Linked DNA regions of Homo sapiens. The protein of the gene in region 2 purifies or fractionates together with the protein of the main gene of each other region. This does not show direct contact. Each region holds a gene or a part of one and is shown on either strand. Other genes may lie near its edges.

The links.
Region 1: the proteins of SUGP2 (region 2) and NBEAL2 purify together in Homo sapiens (tandem affinity purification; one large-scale study listed by IntAct). This does not show direct contact.
Region 3: the proteins of SUGP2 (region 2) and PPP2R2B purify together in Homo sapiens (co-immunoprecipitation; one large-scale study listed by IntAct). This does not show direct contact.

What each region holds. Positions count from the first base shown.
Region 1 is NC_000003.12:46,978,269-46,982,592, reverse strand, and holds the start of NBEAL2 (neurobeachin-like protein 2), read right to left. Parts: upstream 2,928-4,324; 5' UTR 2,732-2,927; coding exon 2,681-2,731; intron 662-2,680; exon of another isoform or gene 599-661; intron 1-598. UniProt on the Homo sapiens protein: Probably involved in thrombopoiesis. Plays a role in the development or secretion of alpha-granules, that contain several growth factors important for platelet biogenesis.
Region 2 is NC_000019.10:18,990,310-18,993,022, forward strand, and holds the end of SUGP2 (SURP and G-patch domain-containing protein 2), read right to left. Parts: 3' UTR 584-2,713; downstream 1-583. UniProt on the Homo sapiens protein: May play a role in mRNA splicing.
Region 3 is NC_000005.10:146,581,666-146,585,315, forward strand, and holds part of PPP2R2B (serine/threonine-protein phosphatase 2A 55 kDa regulatory subunit B beta isoform), read right to left. Parts: 3' UTR 1-3,650. UniProt on the Homo sapiens protein: The B regulatory subunit might modulate substrate selectivity and catalytic activity, and might also direct the localization of the catalytic enzyme to a particular subcellular compartment.

The DNA.
Region 1 (4,324 bases), on a different chromosome or scaffold from region 2:
ACCCTGCCTTGGTTTCCCCACCAGGGCCCTAAGGAGCTCCAACTGAGTGAAGTCCTGGGATGCTCTGACCCTTCCCTCTTCCCTCAGCAGCCACCCACAGCCCCCTCCCTCACTATGAGGCCCCCAGTTGAGCCGGGCCCCCAGGGGGAGGGGGTGGGTGGGTCTAAACCTGGGGTCTTTAAGGAAGAGGAAGGGCAGGAAGGAGTTACTCCCCCCTCTCCATCCCCACCCAGACCCACAACTGGGGAAACAGGTTTGCCAGCTGATGTCAGCTCTCACTGCTGAAGGGAGGGGTGCAGGTGTTGCTGGCTGGGTGGCTGGCCAACTAAAGGGTCTCTAAACACCCACTTTCAGCTCTGCCCCTTACCTTGCACTCCCCCTCCCCAAGCACACACACAATAGGTCCCTAACAGGACTCAAAGTTGCATAGCCTACTCCTCCCTGGATTGGGGGTTCCAGGATCAGGGTCAGGAGCAGGCGGGCAGGAAGGCGAGCTGGGAGGCTGGCCCTAGCTTCCTCTTCCCAGGCAGCCTGGCCCCGCCTGGCTTGGGGGTTTGCTGTTACATCCTGGATTTGTTTGCCTGGCCCCAGGCTGCCCACTGTCTGCTCAGGCTTCCAAAGCTACAACCTGCCAGCCTATGCTCCATACCTGCCCTGCGAGGTGAGGAGCTCCGGGAGGGGGAGGCTCAGCACAGATATGAGCCATAACCACCTCCTGAGGGGATGGGGGGTGGCCATGTACAGAGCTCAGCTAGATGGGGCATCAGGAGGCAACCATGCTGGAGTTACTGTCCTGGGAGATACCAAGACACTCCCAGCAGCCTGCCACCCAGGCTGAAGACCTATCATTAACATCCCTCACACTCACCAGCTGGTTTAAGCCCCCTTTACCTGCCCATGCACCTAGAGCCTGCCCATAGCTATGGGGCAGTCCGAGGAAGGAGGACTAGGGTAGGCTTCTCTTCAAACCCTCTGCTCCTTCACAACCACTGGGGATGCAGGCAGAGAAGCTGGGGCGAGGGGACCCAATGGGGCCAGGAAAACAGGAGCCTTCTCTGGTCTGGACCAGCTATAATGGCTACCTCTCCACAGAGTCCAGGAAGCCCCTGAGGTCAGGGCTGTGTCAGTTTTTTATTTTTATTTTATTTTTTTGAGACGGAGTCTCACTCTGTCACCAGGCTGGAGTGCAGTGGCGCGATCTCGGCTCACTGCAACCTCTGCCTCCCTGGTTCAAGCGATTCTCCTGCCTCAGCCTCCCGAGTAGCTGGGATTACAGGCACACCCCACCACGCCCGGCTAATTTTTGTATTTTAGTAGAGATGGGGTTTCACCATGTTGGCCAGGATGGTCTCGATCTCCTGACCTTGTGATCTGCCCGCCTCGGCCTCCCAAAGTGCTGGGATTACAGGTGTGAGCCACCGTGCCCGGCCAGGGCTGTGTCAGTTTTACAGGCAGGAAGCAGAGGCTCAGAAGTCGAGTTCGATCTGAGTTATACCAAAGAGGGACTCTACTCCATGCCTGGCCTCCTGCTGGGGCCTGGACCTCTCACAACCTGAGCGGACTGAAGAGGCTGTGGTCCTTCTGGCCTGGACTCCAGGTCCGTGGAAGACAGTGGGCCAGCCTCCTTATGGAGGGCCAGCGTGTCTGAGCATGAATTCCCCCCACTGACAAACTGTTCAGGGCACACAATGGTCCATTGTGCCCAGGGCACACCTGAGCCAGGAGCATGATGCCAGGCAGGTGCAGGGAGGGAGGTGCTGGGTGAAGGGGAGGGGAGTGTTACCCTGGGATCCCTCCCTGCTGTGGGTACAGAAGGAAAATGGGGGACTATGTGTGTGAGACGGTGTGAGTGATACCAGGTTCTCAGCTGATGGGACACCCACGTCTGAGTCACTCCCCTCACCTTCTGACTCCACCTGAAGTATTTTCTGAGATGGGTGGGGAGCTCAGGAGGAACGGGCCTCCCTCCAACCTTTTCAGACATCCCTCAGGGCCTCAAGGACCCACCCTCACCCTGGGCATCCAGAGGAAAACCTTTTCTTCTGCTCCTAGAGAGGTCCTGGGTCTACCCCTCAGAATGGGGGTGGGGTGGGGTGGGTCATTTCAAGTCAGGGAAGAGCTTATCACAGCCTGTTCGCTGGGGTGTGGGGGGATGCAACTCAAGAAGGACCTGAAGTGGGAGCATTCCCCTTCCACACACCTCCCTACCTTGGCCCACACCCCCAGACCCGTTGGCCACGACCACCCAATCAGGCCGCGCCCAAGGGAGAGGCAGCTCATAGACAAATTGAGTCCCCCTCCCCCTAGCCTCCTGGCCAGTCTCCAGGTCTCTCCAGGTCTCAGTTTCCCCATTTGTAAAAAGGCCAAGTGTCCGGCCGCCTCGGCCCAGGCCACTCTCCTCTAGCAAGAAAGACTCAGGCTGCACGGTCCTGCTCGCGGGGGTGGGTTGCTATGAAGTGCACGACCGCGAGCTCTGTCCCCAAGGCATAAGTGCCAGAGGCACCCGGCGGGCTGGGGGCACACACGTGTGTGCGGAGCCGGAGCATGCCCTGCGCGCGCGCGCCCGCGCGCGCGGCTACGCGGCCCCAGCGGCGCGGGGCGCCAGGTGCAGCAGGCGCGGGGCGCGCGAAGCTGGGGGCACCGCGGGTGCGGGTGCGGGCGCGGGGCGGGGCGGGCTCACCTGCGCGTAGTAGAGCAGCCACAACTCGTACAGCCGCTCCGAGGCGGCCATGGCCCGGCCCGGCTCCGGCCCTGCTGCGCGCCACCTGTCGCCGCCTCCTCCGCGCCGCCCGCCGGTTGCCCTCGGCCAGGCCCATGGGCGGAGGGCGTCACTCCGGGGCGGAGCGGCGCGGTACTACTGGGGAAGTCTGCGGCTGTGGCCTCCGCGGCGCAGAGCCACCCAAGTCTGCTCGCTCCTCCTCCTCACTGCCGGCCGCCGCCCAGCTTCCTGCACTTCGCTGCAGTCACCGCCGCCCCGCCTCTCCTGGGACCATGTAAAGGGCGGAGAGCCTGGCAGGAGGAGGGGCCTATGGGCCGGGCGGCCCGGGAGGGTGCCCCGCTGCCCTGCCCCACCAGTGCCATTGGAAGGGCCAGCCTGAGCCTCCGGGACGAGGGTCGGGGTGAGGAATTCCAGACTTCCCCAGGGTCTGAATCCGCCCAGGACGCTGCTCGCCTGACTGCATTTGCCGCCATTCAGGGAAGGGGCGGCGGGCCGCGTGGAGGTGGCGAGGGTCCTTCAACAATAATCTCCACCACCACCATGACGACCCCTTGTAGCGCTTATCAAATGCCAGGTGCTACTCTGTCGCTTTATGGGAAGACCGAAACGCAACTTTTGAGCTCTAGCTGTTTGTGGAGTGTGATGGCGGGAAGTTAGAGAGTAGCAGGACTAGCCTGAAATACCTTCGGGGCCGCGGTGCCCTCCCAGATCCCAGAGAGGCTTAGACCGTTGCCACGGGTCCCCCTCCCTCCTCCAGGAAGCCTTCCCAAACGCTCCAGTGGAGGGGCTCCCCCCATTCCCCAACTCCAGGGCCCAGAACTTGCTTCACATATGTTGTTTCTTTAACCTCAACAGGTGGGTGCCTCATGGCTCTGTTTTTTGTTTGTTTTTGAGACAGAGTCTCACTCTGTCGCCCAGGCTGGAGTGCAGTGACTCGATCTCGGCTCACTGCAATCTCCGCCTCCTGGGTTCAAGTGATTCTCCTGCCTCAGCCTCCTGAGTAGCTGGGACTACAGGCGCGTGTCACCAGGCCCAGCTAATTTTTTGTATTTTTAGTAGAGACGGGGTTCCACCGTGTTAGCCAGGATGGTCTGGATTTCCTGACTTCATGATCCACCCGCCTCGACCTCCCAAAGTGCTGGGATTATAGGCATGAGCCACCGCACCCGGCCGGCTCTGTTTTACAGATGGAGAAACTGAGGCCCAAGTTGACCAAATGAGGACCACTTGGGCAGCAGGGGCAGGGACCCAGGCTTGACTGACTCTTTTTTGGGTCCCTGCCACCATCACCCCGTGCCCCCTTCCCCATCCCCTTACCTCACAGTCTGGACACGGGGAAAGGGGCACGGGGTGATGGTGGCAGGGACCCAACCCCTGGTGTTGGGCAGGGATCAGGCTCTTTGTTGGGGCTGGGGAGAAGTTTTCTGGGCCCAGAGGGGTGCTACTCGTTCCAGGAGTTGACCAGTCTGGAGACTCCTAGACCTTGGTTGGCCAAGACAACAGAGACCCTGTCCTGTTTTGTTCTCCCAGCTTCTTGGTTCACCTCTGGCCTTTTGTCCTGCTTCATCCATCATAGCTCTGAGCTGAGGTTTCCTGAGCACCTCC
Region 2 (2,713 bases):
CCTTGGTCTCTGCTGTGCCCTCTGCACGCCCCTCCTCACCTGGAGGGCCAAGGGGCTGTTGACAGAGGAACCATGGGCAGGCTGGCAGCACCCAGGGACAGCAGGGAGTGTGAAGATGACAGAGAGGCAGCTCTGCAGTCAGAGGGTGGCCCAGGCAGGCTCTGGTTTTACTCTGGCAGCTGGAACCCCAGCCCTGGGATGATGGGGCAAAGCCCTGTGGGGACAGGTGAGTCGTAGGCAGCAGGGGCACAGCTCCCACTGCCCTGACACCCCTCAAAGGCAGCTTCTGTACTTGGCGGTACCGATTACCCTCCCCAGCCTCCCCAGAAGGGAATTGCCCTCCCTCTGGTGGGTGCTTGGTCCCTTCCTGCTCTCTGGCATCTTCCAAGCTTTCCTGGTGACAGTGACACAAGGTCCCTCAGGTGGGGCAAGCCAGTGAGGAGGGGCCCGAGGGAGGAGCACCACGCCGGCGGAGGGCACGTCCTGGGAGGCAGCCATCATCTGGTTCTACACTGCACTCCCATCTGCGTGCGCTGGTGTCTGATCTGATTTTAAAAACACAGCCATGGAGACCCCAGCACACTGCATTTCCTCTACATTTATTGCAACGGCTAAATGATTAACAACATTCACAACTTCTTAGATCTTAAAAAACAGAAACAAAAGAAAACTTCCATTTTGTAACATCACAAATGTCTTCTAGGCTTTATCAAGGACCAAAAACACTACAATTCTCTAAGTGATTTCCAGTGATGGAAACAAGCCAGAGACAGTAAAGCACCCAGAGTGGCGAGAGAGCACTTCCAGATGCCTGTTGTCCTCTCGGGGGTGACCCTGGAACTAGAACGACAGAAAAGACACTGTGACTTTGACACGGCTGTGCCACCACACATCACGCGCGACACGAGGATCCTGCAGAGCGGCCTCTGCAGAGAGCAAGGACAGCCTCGGTTAAGAGGGAGGGGCTGGGGGCACGGAGGGCCAGTGGCATCTCCTCTATCCCGGCTGGCCGGCAGCTGGCAGCACGCACCATGCTCTGCTGGCTCCCGACACCTTCACTGCCCCAGCGCTGAATCCACAGGAGAGGTGTCCTCTGAGAGTGTAGGGGGCTTTCTAGGTTCAAGGAGATGTGCCCTTTGACCCCTGCCAAGGACTCACAGAACCATCTCAGCTCAAACTTGGAGGAGCGGCAGGAGGTGGGGGGCGGTCAGTGGCCACACGCCACAGATTCCTAAAGCATTTAACTTTTTAATAAAATGAAGTGGAGAAAGTCAAGAATGAACATGCTAGGACAAAGCACATGGAATGGTCAGGGCGATGCTGGAGAGAGTGCGCTTGATCCACGCTGCAGGTGTGTGCGCCTCGCTCGGGTCAATGGGCTGAGCCCCGCTTGGAGCTCCATCCATTCACCTGACCCATGGCCAACATGGAAGCTGTCGGAGGGGTCAGGAAAGGAGAAGGAGAAAGGAGAAGATGAACCCCCCGCACCTGTGACTCCCCAAAACCAGCTCCACTCCAGGCCCCCACAGGCTGGTTCGTTCGAGGGTTGGGTTATAAACCCAAACTCCATCCTCCATGCTGGCACCTCTACTGCCATAAAGATCTGCCAGTTGCCAAAGCTACAGAAGCCACTGGAAGCAAGCAGAGCCCCTGGGGGTGGTGGCACTGCAAGGTGACAGGGACCAGGCAGACAAGGAGCTGGGACCACAGCCTAGGAAGTCTGTGGCTTAAAGAAAGCCAGGATTTCCTTTTTTTTTTTTGAGACAGAGTCTCGCTCTGTTGCCAGGCTGGAGTGCGGTGGCACAATCTCGGCTCACTGCAACCTCCGCCTCCCGGGTTCAAGTGATTCTCCTGCCTCAGCCTCCTGAGTAGCTGGGACTACAAGCGCCCGCCACCACGCCCAGCTAATTTTTTGCATTTTTAGTAGAGACAGGGTTTCACCATGTTGGCCAGGATGGTCTCGATCTCTTGACCTCGTGATCCACCTGCCTCGGCCTCCCAAAGTGCTGGAATTATAGGCGTGAGTCACCGTGCCGGCCTTTTTTTTTTTTTTTTTTGGAGATGGAGTCTTGCTCTGTCGCCCAGGCTGGAGTGGAGTGGCATGATCTCAGCTCACTGCAACCTCTGCCTCCCCGGTTCAAGTGATTCTCCTGCCTCAGCCTCCTGAGTAGCTGGGATTACAGGTGCCCGCTACCACGCCTGGCTAATTTTTTTGTATTTTTAGTAGAGACGGGGTTACACCATGTTGGCCAGGCTGGTCTCAAACTCCTGACCTCAGGTGATCCATCCGCCTCAACCTCCTAAAGTGCTGGGATTACAGGCTTGAGCCACTGTGCCTGGCCCAAAGCCAGGATTTCTTTACAGCCAATACAAGTGGCATTTCCCGCTCAGTTCTGTGGCTGATGCCCTAGCCACTGCTGTGTCCCCTAATCCTGGGGTGTCAGAGGGATCCTAAGTTTTCCAGATTTTTGCCCATACTTAAAACTTCAACGATCCTGCTTCACAAGGAAGGATGAGTGGAGAATTGAGTGGAGTTACACGCAGCAGAGTGCTGGGGAATCTGGAGAGCGGGGGCGATCACATGCCTGGAAATAGAGCAGCTGCAGAGCCCACCCCAGGAGGAGCCTGCCTCTCCTTACAAAGGCTGTAATAAGACAGCACTTGACGATGCCATACGTGCGAAAAGTGCAGAGTCTCAGAGGGTTTACAACCC
Region 3 (3,650 bases), on a different chromosome or scaffold from region 2:
CTGAAAGGCCATTCCGCAGTGTATTTCAGATCAGTTCTGTATTGTGGCTTGTATGTAATATGACTCACTTTACTTTCCTTTACGGAGAAATAGATTGTCTTTAATATGCAACTATGATTGTTTGCTGTTCTCTTTATATATTCAGGCTGAGTCTTCATAAGCCACCTGCATTTGGAGTTGAAAACCAATGGTCTAGATGAAATATGACTTTCAATTATGCCACAGTCAGAGAAGCTGAAATAAGAAAGCCACACTGGAGGAAGTCAAGTTTATCTTATTGGAGTGAATTGGGCATGTAGAATAAAATCCAGCATTCACTCAGCACACAGCCCCACTGACCCTATTGTTCATCCCCCTCCAATTTATTGTTGTATTTCCCAGCTGCCCACAGAGCTTCCCCTGCAATATTGTGGACACCCAGGCAAATGAAAATGCCAATCTTCTCCCATCCCTGTCTTGCTGTATTAGGCATGTGCTCAGCTCTGAAAGATTTCTTTGGGGGTCTTGCCTTTCCCTAAGAACATCTAGGGGAAGGTTTGTCTCACCTCTTGTTTCCAAGTGGGAGGGTTGAGAATAATAGCTCTTGTCACTTCCCTTTGCCTTGTTATGGGGAATATTTAGTGCTGCAGCCTGGGTGTGGGGGCAATATCTTGGATGTGATAATGTTGCTTCCTGCATCAGTGAACATGGTATTGATTGTAAGCTGTCAACCTTTCTGCATGCTTTTCAGGGTCCCAGAAGGCTAACTACTGCAGGGAAGGTAATGCATCAGGCAGGGACACATATGCTCTATTAACTAACACTGCAATCTAAGCTTGATCACTTGCTTTTAACACATCTTGGCTCACTGGCTCCCAATTTTTTCTTAATTCCCTGACTCCTCTGAGCAGTCCTCTGATGCCCTGTTTGGATCTCCATATATCATTCAAACTCCCAATGGCATGCCGCTCATCTTATAAGCTTCCTGTGGGCAAGTGCTGTGCCTGACTTCCTTACACGTTTATTTGTTCATTCATTCAACAAAACTTTTGAGCACCTACTATGAGCCAGACAATGTTCTGTGCTCTGGGGATACAGGAGTGGCCTAAACAATGATGCAGTCCTCATGGAACTAAGGGTGGTTGAGAAAGCATCTCTGAGGAGGTGACATTTGAGCTGAGTTTATCAGTATATCCCCTGTGGCTGGACTATAAGTATTTGCGAAGTTTGGAAACCATATTTCCTCATTTTAGTGCCTCATAGCCTGGCTATTGGAGAAGCTCCTGATATGTGAACCACACTAAGTCCATGCATTATTATTTTTCAGATCATGCATTATTGCCCACTCACCTTACCATGTCTCCTTATTTCTCTTGGTCTGCCTTCCTACTTTTTACTAATCAGTCATACCAGAGTGTTGTGAATTCCATATATATATAGCATATGCTGTTTTGCCTCCACTGTCCTATCCTGATGTCTGGAATATGCTTTTCCTTTCTCTTCTCCTGGATAACTCACTCCCTTTATCTTTCGGATTTCACCTTGGGAATCACCTCCTCTGGGAAGCTTCTGGTCTGGATGAGTTAGTGCTCCTTTGTGTCCTCCTGGCACCCAGACACATCCATCATAGTGCATATGTTTTATAGGATTAGCAGAACTGTAGCAAGAAATGTGCACTGAATGCATATTTGTGGGCCAGGCATCCTTCTAAGAGCTTTGTGCATATTAAATCATGCAATCTTCACAGCAATTTTATGAGATAGATGTCGTTTTTATCCTTATCTCATAATGAGAAAATCGAGGCACAGAGAGGTTGTCATTTTTCTAGGTTGCTCAGCTTTTACATGGTGGAGCTCAGATTTTAACCCAGGCAGGCAGGCTGGCAGGCTCGGTATCCTGGGCTCTTGACATTCCACTGCCACCATTGCCTGTGAGTTTGTCTGCACCTCCCGCTATCTGTGAGCTGTGTGAAGATGGAGCTGTCACTGCTGCTTCCACAGACCACCCTGGCATGGGCTTGGCAGGCAGTACATGAACAATCATTAACCATTTAGTAAATGAATGAATGAATGCATGAAATTCGCCCAACTGAGCAACTGTTTAGAGTTCCAAAATGTTGCTTTTCCTTTTACCACTGAGGAAAGCCCCTGTTCCCTTCTACTCCAGCTTCCTCAGTCTTCCATGACTCCCACAAGTATGTATTACTCTGGCTGGAAGGGAGGGCATCCCTAGCCAACCAGAGCAAGAATCACAGCAATCATGGCTTGTTCCTACAATTTCTGGGTTTCTGTCAAATATGAGTTATGAAGAAGTGTCCTCTCCACTCTTTCTCAAACCAAATACAGCAGCCAAAATGATTGGAGTGGCAACTGAGAGGGCTTGAGATGGGCAAGCAGGAGCTGTTCAGTGGGCACTGTTCACCCAGGAAAACCCAGGTTGACTTTTTGGGGAATGAGCAGCAGGGGCGGGAAGGCTGGGAGTGGACTGGGATCTGTCTTGGCAGTGGCTAAGCCCCTTCTTCTGGCCTGACAGTGATCATTGCTTTGATTGCAGCTGAGGCAGGGATCAGCGGAGATGGCAGATCATGATGGTTCTGCCACCAGCAGTTTAACCAATGGGGCATGGAATATCTAAATTGGGGGACAGTTAATCAGTCATAATAAGGTCAAAGTCAGAAGTTGGAGACCTGTGAGCCACTTGACTTCACTCTCTGCTTTGATGACAGACCAAATTTGTATTCTTGGTCAGCTGTCAGGCAATATTTAGTCACAGAGAAATGGCGTGTTTGTGAGTATCCACGCTAGGGAAAATAATCAAGCCAAGGTAACTCTGCATTACCAATAACTGTGATGGAAGAAGTATAGGATCTGGAACAGGATAGATCTAGATAAAACTTCCTGCTACGTCATCTAACCCTTTTGAGTCTGTTTCTCGCTATAAAAATGGAATAATACATCTACCTATCAGGTGATTAACAATGATTTAAAACAGTGCCTCTCCCAATGCCTGTCATTGCAATAACTACTCAGGAAATATTGGTTTCCTTTTATTCTTTCCGTCTACTTTACACTTAAATACAGTGCTTAAAATAAGGTTTAATAAATATTTGTTATTGGATGAACAAAAGGAAAAAGGGGTAGGCTAGTTCTAGTATGTCGAAAATGTGTTTCTAATGGAAGGAGAGAAACATTGGCTTTCTGTTTCCATGCCATATGGATTTTGCTTCATATTCTGGTATATGTTGGTCTACCTATTGGAAACGCTGTATCATGCTTTGTTGAGCAAATTTAGTTAAAATTCTGCTTAGATGACACATTCTGAGAACCTTTTCTTATCACTCATTGATTAACTATTTCTTCCTCTGTATGACTTCTGCCCTTCATAGATATCTCATTGTAAAAATGTTTACAGTATGCAAATATGCACTTTCTCCTATGTGAGTGTCATCTCTTGGAGGGCAGGGGCCAGTGGTTTAAATATCTTAGTAACTCCAGCCCCTTGTCTAGAACCTGGCTGCCTGACACATCCCAGGCAACCAATGAATCTTTAATTCATTGAGCTTATGGGTCATTACTGGGGCTTGTTTTCTGATCAGTAACTTCCATCTACATGCATACACACACACACACACACACACACACACACACACACACACACATAATGTATGATGG